2 separate regions of the Homo sapiens genome follow, and region 2 is linked to region 1. The links come from fine-mapping of genetic effects on gene expression. Tissue or cell type: minor salivary gland. Region 1 holds a variant in brackets; the other region holds the start of a gene. All regions are shown on one strand. Distances are between the middles of the regions.

Region 1 (8,093 bases):
CAGGCCCAGCCCCTGCAGAGCGGCCATGATCACATTGACATCATAGTTGCCGGTGCCCAGGAGGCTGCGATGAGGGTTCAGCCGGGAGTCTGGGGCCAACCTGGTAGTGGGGGTGGCCAGAGCTGAGGTGGGGACCCCTGGAAAGGCCTCCCCACAAAATGGGGGTCCCAGGGGCCACAAGTTGCCTCAGCCTTTGACTCTCCCCGCTTCAGACCCCACAACTCATCCACCCCCAAGTCCTGCCTCTCCTGCCCCAATTCTGCCCTGTCCCCAAGTCCTGTCTCTCCTGCCCTGACTCTGCCCTGTCCCCAAGTCCTGCCTCTCCTGCCCCGACTCTGCCCTGTCCCCAAGTCCTGCCTCTCCTGCCCCAACTCTGCCCTGTCCCCAAGTCCTGTCTCTCCTGCCCTGACTCTGCCCTGTCCCCAAGTCCTGTCTCTCCTGCCCTGACTCTGCCCTGTCCCCAAGGCCCCAGATGGGCTCTGTCTTCTCCCGCAGCCTCCAGCCTCCCTCCAGTCCATTCCCACACGGCCCTGGCCCTCTCCTGCTCTCAGCTCTCCCATGGCTCCCCAATGCCTTGGACAAAGTCCCTGTCCCTCCGCCAGTCCCTTCCTCTGTCCTTCAAGGCCCACCTCAGATGTCACGTCCTCTGAGAGGAGCCTCCTGACCTCCAGGCTGGATCGGGGCCCTGTCTGGGCTCCCCCAGTGAACTGAGCCACCTCAACGATGACAGCTGCCCGCATCACCCTGATTTAACACTGCTTGCTTCTCCCACGGGGTTGCCCTCACCCCTCCCCTGCTCACAGCCCACTCTGCTGCCTCATTTCCCCCAGGACAGAGTCCCACAAGGCCCTGCGTGGTCTGGCTCTGGTGGCCTCACCTCAGAGCCTCAGCACCCTCCTTCCTGGTCCCCTGTCCCCAGCCACATCCCCGGTGCCCACCGCCTCCCGCCCCACCCCCGCCAACCTTTCCTCCAGCTCTTCCCCTGCCTAGGAAGGCTCTTCCGCCTGTCACCACTTGTCTCTGGGCCCTGCCTCTGAACAGCTGCACCTCTGTTCCCTATCTGGACCCTGGGCAGGCAGGACATGGGAGGAAAACGCTCGTGTGTGTGTGTGTGTGTGTGTGTGTGTGTGTGTGTGTGTGTTTCCCTCACCACCCTTAGGCTGGCACTTGTGTCTGAGTCATCTCAGGGTCTCCAGCATGGCTTTTGTATGAAAGAGCTGATGGGTCCTTGTTGCGAATGATAGAGGAGATGACTAAATACCATAATAATCAGTCTGAGGGGCTGGGACTCTTAAGATGTCCGAGAGCCGGAGGAGGCTTGGAGCAAGAGGCAGGGGAGGCAGGGCCATCTCCAGGTGTAGAAAGACTCTCTAGGATCAAGTGGGGACTGAAGGCAGGGACAGACTGGAGGCCATGGGCAGGCTGGGCAGGAGAGGGTCAGGCCTGAGCTGGGGCCAGGGACATGGGGACAGAGAGGAGGGAGTGAGAGATGGTAAAGGAGTGATTTTTTTTTTTTTTTTTTTTGAGACAGTCTTGCTCTGTTGCCCGGCTCACTGAAACCTCTGTCTCCCAGCTTCAAGCAATTCTCCCACCTTAGCCTCCAGAGTAGCTGGGACTACAGACATGTGCCACCACGCCCAGCTAATTTTATTTTTTATTTATTTTTATTTTTTAGTAGAGACGGGGTTTCGCCCTGTTGGCCAGGCTGGTCTGGAATTCCTGACCTCAAGTGATCCACCCGCCTCAGCCTCCCAAAGTGTTGGGATTACAGGTGTGAGCCACTGCGCCCGGCCAAAGAGTGATGTTGGACATTGTGAATAGTGAAGAGGAACATTCCATGCTGGCAGAGAAGGAAGCCATGCCGGGCAGAAAGAAGTACCTGGAAGCCCAGAGGCCGCACAGAAGGGCTCACGGGAGTGGAGAGTCTGGTTTGAGGGGGGCCGTGAGGGCTGAAGATGCGGAGGCAGGCTCGGCCTCCGCTATGAGGAGGGCCCTGAGTAGGGCGGGGGCGTGTTTAGGATGGACTGGAGAGCTGTGACAGGGCCCAGATAAGAGATGCCTGAAGCTGGGTGAGCCTGTAATCCCAGCTACTGGGGAGGCTGAGGTGGGAGGATCACTTAAGCTCAGGAGTTCAAGACCAGCCAGACCTTGTCTCTAAAGAAAGAACCACTGGGCCGGGTGCAGTGGCTCACGCCTGTAATCCTAGCACTTTGGGAGGCCGAGGCGGGTGGATCACGAGGTCAGGAGATTGAGACCATCCCGGCTAACATGGTGAAACCCCGTCTCTACTAAAAATACAAAAAATTAGCCGGGCGTGGTGGCGGGTGCCTGTAGTCCCAGCTACTCGGGAGGCTGAGGCAGGAGAATGGCATGAACCCGGGAGGCCGAGCTCGCAGTGAGCGAGATCGCGCAACTGCACTCCAGCCTGGGCAACAGAGTGAGACTCAGTCTCAAAAAAAAAAAAAAAAGAAAGAACCACTGGATTGAGGTCTGGCTGGGGCTGAGGCCACAGGGACAGACAGGCACAGGAGGCAACATCTCCCCAGAGTCCCAGCGTCTAGCTTAGGCAAGTGAGCGCGGAGCAGAAGAAAGCCCCCAAGGCTCAGCGCCTGCCTGGCGGCGAGACCCAGGTGGGTCACTCCGCCAGAGCTCTGCTGCTCCAGGGGCTGGGGTGGGTGACGGTCACCTCTTGCAGATCTCATCGGCAGCCTCCTGGCTAAAGAGCTGCTGCTGCAGAACGTTGTTGAGGGCGTGGACAGCACACAGCTCCAGGCGCTGCCGTTCGTGGTACACGGTGGGTGGGCTCGGCTGTGCTCCCGGGGCCTGGGACATGCCGTCCTCGGCTCCTGCTGGGGGTTGGGAGGGGGAGAAGGTCCTCAGGGGCCCGGGATCTAGAGGTCCAGCCTCCCAGCAGGCCTTTGGGGCATCGCCATTGATTGAGCTGGGACTCGGAGCAGCCCAGGAAGACACTGGGCCCCTGACCCCGCTCCCTGGCAGTCTCCTGGCAGCACACGTCCCTCCATCCCTTATTCCTATTCCTACGAAAAACGCTGTCTCTTCTGCTCCCCTAGCAACAGAAAACCACCCTCACCAGGTCTCTAAGTAAAAGGGTCCCTATCATGGTCACCTAGCAACAGAGGAACCTGCCTCCCCGTCCCTAGGTAACCAGGGCGCTCTGTGGTTACCTAGCAACAAAGCCCCCTCCCCACCGCACTAGGTAACAAAGTCTGTCCTCCGAGCACCTAGCAATAGAGAATCCTCCTCCCCTGTCTCTAGGTGATAGGGTCCCCTCTGGTCTCCTAGCAACAGAAGACTCCCCTTCCCCGGTCATGTAGCAGCGAGGCTCTCTGCTCTTGTCACCTGGCAACGGGGCCCCCTCCCCAGTCACTAAGCAACAGGAGTTCCTCTTCCTATCACCCAGCAACCAGGCCCCCTCCCCGGACACCAAGGAATGGAGCCCTTCGCCGACCCGCACCCCAGCCACGGCGCTCGCCCTTTGCCTGGCAACGCCCCTCACCCCGCCTGCCTCTCCGCTCCACCGAGCCAGGGGTTTCCGCATCCCCTTCCTGGGCGGCGGCTCTGGGCTCCGAGTGCGGGGCGGGCAACACCGCGCTGACTGGGCAGGCGGGACGGACTACAGCTCCCGGTGATCCCCGCGCGCCGGACTACGACTCCCGTGGGGCCCCGCGGGACTCCTGCTCCACACGGAACGCCCGGGCCGCGTGGCCCTGAAGTCGGCCGTCGGGCCTAGGAAATGCCGCACTACAACTTCCGTCGGGCTCCGCGGCAGGTCCCGGAAGTGCGCCTCAGAGGCCCTTCTTTCGCATACGGCCGCGCCCACTACTGCTCAGAGATTCTAGGAAACTTAGTAGGTAGGCTCTCGCGATAGCTTCCTGGCGCCGCGCTCTCATGGGTGCTCGCCCCCGGCGATGGCGTCATGCGCGGTGCGCAGACGCAGCGTGACGTCACACAAGGGAAAGGGATCAGAGACGCCAGGCGGTGCGGGGGGAGGCAGCGGTGATCTTTACTGAGTCAGAAGGGAGACCCTGGGGAAGTGGGGCAGGGCAGGGGTGGGATGGTGGTGGTGAGAGGCCAGGCAGATGATCTTGTCTCGGGAGGGAGGAGGCTTCTCAGCAGAGATGGATCCCCGGCCTGGAGGGGAGCTGGCAGCAGGCTGCGGGGAGAGGGGAATGAGCGAATGAGACAGAGGAGAGATGAGGAGACAGACGCCTGGGGGAGGCAGTGGTGGGAGGAGGGGACAGGGCAGGGGGGCGGTGGAGGAAGACCCGGAGAGAGCGGGACAGAGCCCTGGGGGTGGACAGAGACAGAGAGAGTCTCGATCAGAGGCGGGCACAAATGGAGACATCTACAGTGCCAGGATTCAAAGTCATGGAGAGAGGTTAAGGAAATAAAGGTCAGAAAGAAAGAAAGGTCAACAAATACAGAACCAGAACTGCAGAACTAGTGAGAGCCCGGG[AC/A]CCCCAAGCTCTGCAGAACACAGGAGCCCAGGGCCGGGGGAGAGGGGCCTGGCCGCACCCAGGAGGCTCTGCCAGAAGGCCGTGACGGTGGCGGAGCCGGTGACCGCGCCTGGCTCGGCAGGGTTCTCTCTGCGGGTGTGCACAGCAAAGCTTCGGCCCGTGGGGCCCCGGGGTCCGCTCAGCTCTACATCCACCACGTGCATGTCCGTGAGGCTGGGACAAGAGGGGCAGTCAGTCTGGAGAGCCTGGACTCAGCCCAACACCCTGCTTAGCTCTGCTCACCTGGTATCAGCCACGAGCACCCCAATCACCCCATCGAAGCCCAGGCTGGGGGCAGCCAGGGCAGCCGCCGCCATGGTGTTGGAATTTCGCGGGGCAAAGGGGCAGAGCCCACGGACAGGGCCTTCGTAGAGCACAGTGCAAGGCCCAGGGCTGTGGGCTGCAGCCAGGGGTCCCTCAAGCCGGAAGCCATCGGGGTGTGTGGCCATGGTGACACGAAGGCTCTGGAAGCAAGAGCCCGGGTTAGGGGGAGTGGGGTCTTTGCAGGCCTCCCCTGGTTCCTGGGGAGCCCAGCAGGCCTCACCCGGAGGCCCCCAGCTGCATCCAATCTCCTGATGTCCTCAGCGCCCCACAGGGCCCCTCGGGCCACAAACACGGCGTGGTCCCAGTGCTGTGAGGCCTCCAAGAGCTGCCGCTCTGTGGTCTGGTCACTTAGAGCTGAGGGGGACCCCACCTGGGGTGGATGAAGGAGGGGAGGGTTGAGGTCAGGGAAGGATATCCACTTCAGGGTGGGGTGAGACCAAGACAGAAGGGGCAGGGCTCTGCGTAAATGGTTGGGGTGGGGCTTACCAGGAGATTGGCATGGCGCAGGATTTGTGCCCCAGATTCATGGATTATTTTGGGATGGGCCACTTCCACAACCAGATCAGGGCGCCTGGGAGAGGGGAAAGAGGGCGGAGGGTCTTGGAGAGGTATTAGGCCTCTTCTCCCCAAGGTTCCCTCCGAGTCTACTGAGGGCTGCCCTTCTTCTCCCTGACCTGGGAGGCGAAATGAGATGAATGGGTTCGTCCTGTTTCACATTTGCTTGAACCAAGGCCCAGAGAGGGTCAGGGAACCCCTGAGATCACACAGTGGCTAAGAGAGCCAGGACAGGAGCTTCAGGGAGCTCCACTCTCCCATGGCAAGGTCACTGACCTTTCCCCAAGGGCAGCAAGGTTCTGGAGCTGCAGGGAAGGGGGCACGCTCCCTGCCATTCGTCCTGGGTCACGATTCCAGACAAAAACAAGTTCTAGGCCAAGTTCTGGTCCCTGAGCCAAGAGGCGGGAGACGAGGGACTGTCCTGGGGAGAGGGAAAGGAGAGGGCTAGAGATCCAGAGAGAGGGGGACAGAGACCCAGAGAGAGAGGAGGTGGGGACAGAGACCCAGAGAGAGAGGAGGTGGGGACAGACTCAGATTGCGGGGTAGGGAGACAGAGATGGGGGCAGGGCAGAGACACAGTGGGGTGGACAGAGGCCCAGAGAGAAGGGAGACAGAGACGGAGAGGACAGAGACCTGGGGTGGGGGTGCAGTGGGCAGACCCAGAGACACAGCCAGGGGCAGATAGAGAGAGAAAAAAGTGTTTGTGGAGGGCAGAGAGTCTTGGGAGCTTTAGGAAGGGGTTTGGGGAAGGAGGCCAAGGATGGTCAGGGACTCACCGAGGCGGCCATAGCCCACCACGCCCACCCTCCACGGGCCCCTGTCGGCCATGGCCCTGAGTGCGGTGTCTGGGGCCTGGCTCCCTGGGCTGCTCGCTGCCCGCTGCACAAGGCCTGGGCAGCCGCTGCTCTTTGGACATCTGACCCTTGAGCCTCTGGGCTCAGTCTTCCCCCTTCCCCGCAGGCCCAGCGTGGGGGCGTGGGCCTGCGGGAGTGGAGGCGGGAGAACCCTTCCCTGTGCTCTGTCCACTTTCCCGGGTCCAGCACAGTGAGCATGGTGACCGGGGGTTCTGGGAACCCTGCGTGCCCCCCTTTCCCCTGCAGCACACCCTCTTTCTCCCTGCTGATGTGGAAAGTTTCCTCTGCAGTCCCCTGCCCCCTCTCTGGCCGGCCAGGTTGTCATGGAAACTGCATCTTGCTTTGGGTTGGGAGAAGAGATGGTGACAGGGACTCTGGGCTCTGTCTGTCCCCTCGTGCTCACCTCTCCTCCTTGTCCTCAGGCGGCTAAGGTCTGAGGGAGGCTTCAGCCTGGCCGTGGCCCTAGCCCTCCCAGAGGCAGCGGGAGCCCTGGTTGTGGCTTCTCCTCAATGTGCCCTTGCCTCAGCGGGTCCAACCTCCCTAGCCCCGCTGCGCAGCACGGGTCCCCTTCCCACAGCCTCCGCCCCTGTCCACAGCCTCCCTCCGCTCTGATCATCCTTCAGTTCACCTTGACTTGCTACCTTTCACTCTGTCCCCCATCGTGCCACCAGCTGCCTCCAGTGTGACGTTCTCGCTCCCACGTCCGTCCCTCCCGTTCCCCAGCTCGCGTCAGCCCAGGAGAAGCCTTCGAGGCCTGGAGAGGCCAAGTGCCCCCAACATGAGCCCCAGCCTCTGTGCCTTGAGGGTGCCTGGCATCGGAAATGGCGCAGGCTGCGGCAGCGCAGGCTCCCTGCCCCCAGCCACCACCTGGTACCCGCTGCAGTGTTTCCATGGCAACCAGGATTGGCGCTGGAAGGAGGCTGGAGAGAAAGAGAGCGTGAACGGGAGCATGGGGTGGGGGGGGCGGGCACTGGGTGGCGAGAGCCCCAAGTTGACGGGAGGAGAGAGGAGACAGACGCGGGCAGACAGAGAGGGGCCAAGACCCCGACGTGGCACCCAAAGGCTGCCGCTGCTGATAAGGGAGGAATTGGCTTCCAGAGCCAGGAGCCCCCGGTGTGGGAGAGATGAGATGCCTGGGTGTAGACAGAGCCAGGAAGGGGGCAGGGGCCAGGCACCTCACGGAAGTGGGGGGCCTCCCGCCATCTCTACCTTCTGACTCCTGCTGGGGCCTGAGTGTCCCCATAGTGCCCATAGCTGCCGTGTACGGGGTACAGCCTGGGCCACTACGAGGGGAGAAGGGGGCTGGGCGCAGGCCTGTGTGTCCTCAGGGCTGTGTCCCCGAAGCCACCTCAGCGTGGGAAAGCACTGGAAGGCCCTGCATGGCTCCGTCCCTCCCTCTGCCTCCCCCAGCAGCGTGAGATGGCAGCCCTGGCCAGCCCCAGCCCTCCAGGGCCTGCAACTCGGGCACCTTGACCCCCCAAGAGACATCACCACCCCCTCCCCCAACCCACCCAACAGCTGCCCACTGTGCCAGCAACCCCCCAGCCAGGCCCGCTCAGGGTTTGCTCCCTGCCCTCCCAGGGCTCTGCTCCTGCCCTTCTGAGTGGCACTGTGGTGCCCCTGCCGCCCCAGGCCCACCCGATCCGGCCCTCCAGCCTCCCACTGAACCGGCCAGAAATACAGCTGCTGTGCCCCAGAGGCCGCAGGCCCAGCCTCCCGCTTGGCCTCCCTCCCCTTCGGCACCCCGTCCTCTGGAGCAGCCTTGAGGGGGTCTGCAGTGGAGAGACACACTCTGGATTGGGCCCTGTTGTGGGTTGAATTGTCACCCAGAAAGGGAAGCGCA
Region 2 (8,093 bases), 520 kb after region 1:
TGCTTCCAGCCCCTCCCCTTCACTTCCTGTCCTGGTGACCACGCACGCTGCCTGCACTGGCTCACCTGGCAGGCATCCTGCCCCGGGACGCCGCCTGCACACACCATGTTGCTCGTGATTCTCCCGGGATACACACCATGGCAGGTGGCATGGGAGACGATGGAGAGGTTGAGGCACTGGAGCAGATCCGGGAATGGGTCTGGAGAGAGAACATGCGTGCTGCAGGGTCCCCTAAATCTCCCCACTTTGAGGCCACGTCCCTCTTCCCTGGATGTGGCCCATCCATGTCAATACCCCTGCCCCTCACCGACCTGTACTACAATCCCGAAACCTCCAAGTTACATATTTATGACTTAATTTCATATGAATCATGACCCCAGATGATTGACGGTCTCTTTGATCTTTGACATTTGACTTTGAGTGGCATAACTCAAGAACTTTCTTGTCTCTCCAGCGTCAGAGACAACGAATCCAGACCTGACCCTCTTCAATGCCAGCTACTGTGATCTTTGACCTTCTGTCTTATTACCTTATGATCCCAGCTTGATCTCATATCTTCTGTCTCCTGACCCCATGTCCCTGTCTTTACCTTAACCTCCAACCTCAGCTCTGCATCTTCCAAACCTCACTGCTTCCAACGCCAGTGTCCCCTGATCCTAGTTTATTGGGCCCCAGCCTCCATGACCCCAAACTTCGGGCCCCACACCCCAAACGCTATGACCTCCAATCTCAGATATGTGATTTTGGATAGAATCCCAATTTCCATCCTCAGATTTTGACCAGATTGTACAACCTCTGGATCCCATGACCTTAATTCTACGGTGACCTCTAACCCCAGACCCATGACCCACAATGCCCATATCCTATACATACATATATATATATATATGCCTTTTGCTCCAGTGTGATGACCTCTGACACACTCTGACCTCTGACCTCTGATCCCTGACTTCATACCCAGTCCTTTAACCCCTTTGGCTCCCAAGACCCCAATCCACCATAATCTCTGACCCCAAACCATGATCCTGATGTCCCATCCCACACCCTGACCCTTTACCCATCCTTCCTCTGAGGTGTCATGATTCGACCTCTCGCCCTGCATCCCAGACTTGTACCCATCCTGACCCCTGACCCCTGGCCCTGGGCCCCTTACTCCGTGGGTGGTTGGTGATGCCCCAGCCTGAGACGTGGCACTCGGTGCCAGCGGTTGCACAGTCATTGGGCAGGGGCAGGGGTTGAACGCTGCTGGTTACGCGGACGGGCAGGCGCAGCCGCAGCAGCCGGAGGTCGTGCTCGTGGCTCGTCGAGGCTCCCAGGTAGCCGGGATGGGTCACAGAGAAGCCGCTGTGCCGGATCTGCTCGGTCCAGTCGAGCTGGCTGAGGCTGTGTTCCCCCAGGCGCACCCAGTACCTGCTGCCGGTGGCGACGGCTGAGCGGGTGGCAGGCACGCAGTCCCCCACCTTGCACCCCTCCACGGACACTCAGGCGCTCCTGCCGCTCCCCACTGTTCTGCCCCTCACTGTCTGTCCTCTCACCCGCAACTCTCATTCTCCGAGTCTCTCTTACAGGCTCTTATTCCCAACCTCCATCACCCTCTTTCCATCTTGGGTGTTCCCTGTTTCTCCTACCATGTCCCTGCATCTGTGTCTCTCTCTCTCCTTTTTTTTTTTTTTTTTTTTTTCAAGACCGAGTCTCGCTCTGTCGCCCAGGCTGGAGTGCAGTGGCACCATCTTGGCTCACTACAACCTCCACCTCCCAGGTTCAAGCAATTCACCTGCCTCAGCCTCCCAAGTAGCTGGGATTACAGAAGCATGCCACCATGCCCAGCTAATTTTTGTATTTTTAGTAGAGATAAGGTTTCACCATGTGTGTCAGGCTGGTCTCAAACTCCTGACCTCAAGTGATCCGCCCGCCTCGGCCTCCCAAAGTGCTGGGATTACAGGTGTGAGCCACCGCGCCAGGCCTCTCTTTCTGATTCTCTCGGCTGGTGAAGCCCATGAAGGCAGGGACATCAGTGGACCTTGTTCACTGCCTTATTCCCACCGCCTGGCACGGAGCATGTGCCCTCCATGCTCATGCGTGGACGAGTGGGTTCATGATTGAACGAGTGGGTTGATGAATGGCCTCTCTGCATCCTGCTGCTGGCCCTCTCTCTCCCTGAGTCTCTGTTTCTTTGCATCTGATCTCCCCTTTCACAAAAAAAGTTCCAGGCCAGGCACAGTGGCTCATGCCTGTAATCCCAGCACTTTGGGAGGTCAAGGCAGGAAGATTGCTTGAGCTGAGGAGTTTGAGACCAGCCTGGGTAACATAGCAAAACCCTGTCTCTACAAAAAAAATTTAAAAATTAGCCAGGTGTGGTGGCGCAGGCCTGTAGTCTTAGCTCCTTGGGAGGCTGAGGTGTGAGGATCACTTGAGCCCAGGTGGTTGAGGCTGTAGTGAGCCAAGATAGCATCACTGCACTCCAGCTTGGATGACAGAAAGAGCAAGACTCTGTCTCCAAAAAAAAAAAAAAAGAAAGAAAAAGAAAAAAATTCCAGAACATCAGTCTACTGAGGCCCAGAGAGGTGCCAGGCATAGATTCTGAAGTTGCACAAAGAGTTTGGGTCATGTTGGCCGGGTGCAGTGGCTCACACCTGTAATCCCAGCACTTTGGGAGGCCAAGACGGGCAGGTCATTTGAGGCCAGGAGTTCGAGACCAGCCTGGCCAACATGGCAAAACCCTGTCTCTACAAAAAATACAAAAATTAGCTGGGCATGGTGGCGGGTGCCTGTAATCCCAGCTACTCAGGAGGCTGGGGCAGGAGAATCACTTGAACCTGGGAGGCAGAGACAGCAGTGAGCTGTGATCACGCCATTGCACAGCAGCCTGGGCGACAGAGCGAGACCCTGTCTCAAAAAAATAAAAAAAAGAAAAAGAAAAAGAGCTTGGGTGAGACCTGGGCCCCGGGCCCAGACTGGGTCAAGGAATGGCTGGGGTGAGTGGCAGATGTCATATAGGAAAGAAAGGGTACATGCAGGAATGGGAGAGGCAGGAGGGCAGGTTCCAGGACCCTCCCCGGCCCTCCACCCAACATACCTCACCCTGCCCAGCACCACCCCAGGCCCACTGCTAAGGAAGTTCCACTCCTGGTCTAACCTCAGACTCTCTTGTTGCAGGATCAGCTTCTTCCCAGTGGGCACCACCCTCCCTTGTGATCCTACCCCCAGCGCTTGCCTTCCCATAGTCCTCCCTTCGCCCACCCCAGGAAGGGACTTACCTGCCGCTGCAGTGAGCCGCTGTGAGGACCCACCTGTGGTCAATAAGGACACCCCCGCAGCGCAGGCTGGTGCCCTCAAACAGCCCCACCTGCCACGGCTGTGAGTTACGCCCACACTCAGTGCCATTGAAAATCTTCGGTGTGGCTGCCTGGCTGAGCCCTGGAGACAGACAGGGGCATGGGTCAGAGAGAGGAAGAAAAGATACAGAGATGGAGAGACACACAGAGTGAGAGAGAGAAACAGGCAGGAGAGAGAGAGGAGAAAGAGAGACGAGAAAGAGAGAGAAAGAGAGAGAGACCCAGTGATAGAAAAAGACCATGAAACATCAAAGACACCCAGGGAGAAAGATGCTTACACATAGGAGGGAAATGGAGAGACAGAGATTCAGAGAGGGACAGAAGGGAAGAGGGATCAAAAAATAGGGGAGACCGAGGTGAGCAGTACCCTGAGAGCTGCAGGTAAATGGAGGCACAGAGAAAGCCCCTCTCCTCCTCACCACCAGGCTGGGGGCCAGAGCTGAGATGGGGAGGGTGGTGGGGCCTCCTCATGGGGGTGAAGGGATCCAGTCGCAGTCCTGCCCTCTCCCTGCTCCGGGAGAACTCACCAAGAACACACAGGAGCAAAAAGATGCTGAGCCCCATGGTGGGTCACTTCCAAAGTCTGGGGGAAAAGGGGAATCTCAGAGGTCACCCTTTCCCTGTGCCCCCCACCTCTGCCCTCTCTGCTTCTCTTTGAAGGTCACCAAGGGGATGACCTGCTTGTCCTCTCTCTACCTGCTCCCCTGTGTGTCACTCCCTCATTGGCAGTCGCCTACCTCCTTCTCACCTTGTCTCTTTGTCTGCCAGATCCTCTACGTGGCTGTCACTGTTTGGCCTGTCCTCGTCGCTGCTATCTCTCCGTCCACCTACCTGCCTGTCTTCTCATGTGCTGGCCACTCCGCCAGCCAACTCTACCACTCTGCACCTGGCTCCTCAGCCACCTGTCATGTTGCTCAACCGGTCCCTTTCCTTCCATCTGTCGCTCCAGACAGACCACTGACAAAGCTCTTAACTCTCTTTGTCCTGGCCCATCCAGTTTCCGGGTTAAGGGAAGGGGACCACGAAGACAGGGGTGGGGCGTGCTCTAATTCTGCAGAAACTCTTCTCAGCTAATCACACTTAATTGAGCTTTACAGCTAAACGGAGTGGGGAAGGAGGAAAGGACCCAGGGTGGGAAGACCCAGCCCCACTCCCTCTCTCCTCTGCAAGCCCGTCAGCAGCCCCAGGACTGATGACTCAAGGTGACTAGGGAGCTGGGTTCTAATCCTGACTCCAGTGACAAAGGAGGGTGGGGAGACCTTGGACACCTGGGGCCCATCCCCATGCAGTGCAGGGGAGGGGCAGGGGGAAGGAGAGGCTGTGAAAGCAGGAGAGTGGACGGGAGGGGCAGGAAGCCCAAGCTAGAAAGAGTCCCAGAAAGAGAAGAAGAGTTGAAGGAACAGACTTCCAAATAGGTGATCAGGCAGGGGTAGAAGAGAGTTTCTGAACTGAGTTCATATATGTACATATGAAGTGGATCAATCTAATTCCATAAAGTTTTTCTTTGCTAAGAACTTCTATTGCTTAAATAAAACCCACAGAGAGAAAAAAAAAAGACACAGGGAAGGAGAAATGGTAGAAAGAGAGAGAGAGAATGAGTCACAGGACAAGGGAACTTTGTGCTGTTTTTTGTTTTTCGTTTTGAGATGGAGTCTCGCTCTGTCACCCAGGCTGGAGTGCAGGGCTGTGATCTCCGCTCACTGCAACCTCCACCTCTTGAGTACCTGGGATTACAGGCACGTGCCACCATGTCCGGCTAATTTTTGTATTTTTAGTAGAGACGGGGTTTCACCATGTGGGCCAGGCTGGTCTTGAACTCCTGGCCTCAAGCAACCTGCCTGCCTTGGCTTCCCAAAGTGCCGGGATTACAGGTGTGAGCCACCATACCTGGCCTCTGTGCTGGTTTATCTGAGTTTTTGCTTCATCTAGGAGGAATGGAAGGAGAGAAAGAAGGAGAGAGAGAGGGGACAGAGAGAGAAAATGAGAACAAAAAGGGAATTCGGCTCAGAGGAAGGGGGATTGAGAAACAAACCAAGAGAAAAGCAGTCAGGGCCAGGCGCGGTGGCTCACGCCTGTAATCCCAACACTTTGGGAGGCCGAGGCGGGCAAGTCACTTGACGCCAGGAGTTCAAGACCAGCCTGGTCAATATGGTGAAACCCCATCTCTACTAAAAATACAAAAATTAGCTGAGTGTGGTGGTGCATGCCTGTAATCCCAGCTGCTCGGGAGGCTGAGGCAGGAGAATCCCTTGAACGTGGGAGGCGGAGCTTGCAGTGAGCCGAGATTGTGCCACCGCACTCCAGCCTGGGCGGCAGAGCAAGACTCCATCTCAAAAAAAAAAAAAAAAAAAAGAAAGAAAAAGAAAAAAAAGAAAAGCGGTCAGACAGAGCGCACAAACAAACAAAAAAACCCAGAACAAAACAGAGGAGAGCAAACTCCCACCCTATGACTGTCTTTTAGTCCTTCACTTTCTCTCTGGGTCTCCAGTCTCTGTCCGTGTCTCATTTTCAGAATCACAGAACCTTAGCTTTTGATTTGCTCTTAGAAACGACCTAACTGCTTTAACTCATCATTGGTCAGCGCGACTGGCGTTGATAACGCTGGTCCCTACAAAGCCTCCTGCTGGCTGTTAAGAGCTTTCCTTCTTTGGGCAGAGAGGATAAAAAAGCACCATGACTGTCCTTTCTCTGGAAAGGACACACGTCACACGCTCACAGCACAAAAACGCCACTTCTTCCTTTTTCTGGTGTCAAGTTTTACAATAAACCTCAACTGAATAAGCAAAGAAACAAAAACAAAAATACCAACAACTACCCAACTCAACCTCTCTCTCTTTTTTTTTTTCTGTGTAGATTTTTAAGAGAATCAGGTTTACTGATGTGGAATTTATATCCAATAAAATTGAATACAAAAAATAAGGCGGGCTCGCTGATTTTAAGGAGCATTCATGCAAATTAAAAATACCATGTATATAGTTAGTAACAATGTATTGTGTACTTGAAAATTACTGACCGAGTAGGGTTTAAGTGTTCTCACTACAAGTAAATATAAGTATGGGGCCGGGCATGGTGGCTCGTGGCTATAATCCTAGCACTTTGGGAGGTTGAGATGGGAGGATGGATTGAGGCCAGGAGTTAGAGGCCAGCCTGGGTAACATAGTGAGACCCTGTTTCTACAAACAAAAACTAAAAAAATTAACCAGGCATTATGGTGACACAGGCCTGTAGTCCTAGTTATGTGGGAGGCTGAGGTGGGAGGATCACTTGACCCCAGGAGTTTGAGGCTGCAGTGAGTTATGATTGTGCCACTGCACTCCAGCCTGGGCACTCCAGCCTGCACTCCCGTCTCAAAAAAAAAAAAAAAAAAAAAAAAGACCAGCATGGGCAACATAGTGAGACCTCATCTCCACAAAAAGTAAAAAAAAGTTAGCCTGGGGGAGGGGCATACCTGTGGTCCCAGCTACTTGGCAGGCTGAGGTGGGAGGATCGCTTGAGCCCAGGAGGTGGAGGCTGCAGTGAACCATGGTCACACCACTGCACTCTAGTCTGGGTCACAGAGCAAGACCCTGTCTCTCTATAAAAAAAAATAATAATAACTTTTATTAAAAAATAAAATAAAATAAATTTGTAGATGAGGAATATTTTGCCTCCAGAACTCAACGAGGCCTAAAATGTTTTGGGTTTGTTTTAATGCTGTGGGTGCTAAGAGACTCAATAGCTGTTTCCTGGCAGTGTCTCAGCTGGAGGGGTCCTCACTTTACCAAATGATTTTCAGAAATTTAACCAAGGTGGGGCCGGGCGTGGTGACTCACGTCTGTAATCCCAGCACTAGGCCGAGGTGGGCAGATCACTTGAGACCAGGAGTTCGAGACAAGCCTGGTCAACATGGTGGACCCTCGTCTCTACTAAAAATACAAAAATTAGCCAGTTGTGGTGGTGGGCACCTGTAATTCCAGCTACTCCAGAGGCTGAGGCAGGAGAATCACTTGAACCTGGGAGGCAGAGGTTGCAGTGAGCCGAGATCGAGCCACTGCACTCCAGCCTGGGTGACAGAGTGAGACTCCGTCTCAAAAAAAAAAAAAAAGAAAAAAAAGAAAAAGATATTCAACCAAGGTGGGAGGCCTCATACTCTGTGTGGGGCACTGGCCCATCCCATTGTGTGAGTTCCTCTAGAGTATTTGTGAATCTAGAATTAGCGTATCCTATGGGCTTCCTTTGGACAAGGGTGTTTGTCACCATATGACGTCATGCCTGTGCTTTTGGAGAAACGTGGATGGAGCTGGGGTGTTGCCTGTGTTGCATGTCAGAACGTGATAGCCCAGAGTCTGGAACTTCAGCATGCTGAGTGCTTTGAGCTGAAGGAGATTGGAAGACCTCAGGAACAAGAGGTTCTCTCCAACCTCCTCCTGCTTTCCTCTCCTCTCCCCTTACTTCTCCTTTGAAGCAGTCACAGACACTAGAATTCCTTTTCCCCTGAAGACCCTCATGTGACAGGTGTCCTGCAGAGGAAGAAATGCAACACAGAAAGGCCCAGAAGAATCTGAACAAATGGGACCTGCTGGGATCCCCCCTCAATTTATGACCAAGAGATCATACCTGTTTTTTGGTTTTTGTTTGTTTGTTGAGTTGGTTGGGTTTTTTTGAGATGGAGTCTCGCTCTGTTGCCCAGGCTGAAGTGCGGTGGCACAATCTCGGCTCACTGCAACCTCCGCCTCCTGGGTTCAAGCAATTCTTCTGCCTCAGCCTACTGAGTAGCTG

Evidence for each region. PIP is the estimated chance that this variant, and not a neighbour inherited with it, causes the effect.
Region 2: KLK12 starts here. The variant in region 1 is fine-mapped to the expression of KLK12 in minor salivary gland (GTEx, PIP 0.98).

The regions. Positions count from the first base shown.
Region 1 is chr19:50,507,600-50,515,692 of GRCh38, forward strand. JOSD2 (Josephin domain containing 2) reads right to left here and starts at 3,592. Exons shown (of 5, transcript NM_001270639.2): 1 at 3,518-3,592; 2 at 2,687-2,849; 3 at 1-100. The coding sequence starts at 2,832. It overlaps ASPDH (aspartate dehydrogenase domain containing), which reads right to left and starts at 6,314. Exons shown (of 7, transcript NM_001114598.2): 1 at 6,173-6,314; 2 at 5,673-5,817; 3 at 5,328-5,412; 4 at 5,062-5,211; 5 at 4,761-4,981; 6 at 4,537-4,691; 7 at 4,004-4,174. The coding sequence starts at 6,224. The coding sequence ends at 4,131. LOC124904747 (a long non-coding RNA gene) reads left to right here and starts at 3,819. Exons shown (of 3, transcript XR_007067300.1): 1 at 3,819-3,872. RefSeq lists enhancers at 2,265-2,772, 2,773-3,279, 3,774-3,893, 4,197-4,786 and a silencer at 3,444-3,573. The variant AC/A (reference allele first, on the strand shown) is at 4,478.
Region 2 is chr19:51,030,723-51,038,815 of GRCh38, forward strand. KLK12 (kallikrein related peptidase 12) reads right to left here and starts at 4,280. Exons shown (of 6, transcript NM_001370125.1): 1 at 4,084-4,280; 2 at 3,863-3,918; 3 at 3,258-3,417; 4 at 1,154-1,413; 5 at 66-199. The coding sequence starts at 3,899. RefSeq lists an enhancer at 7,394-7,894.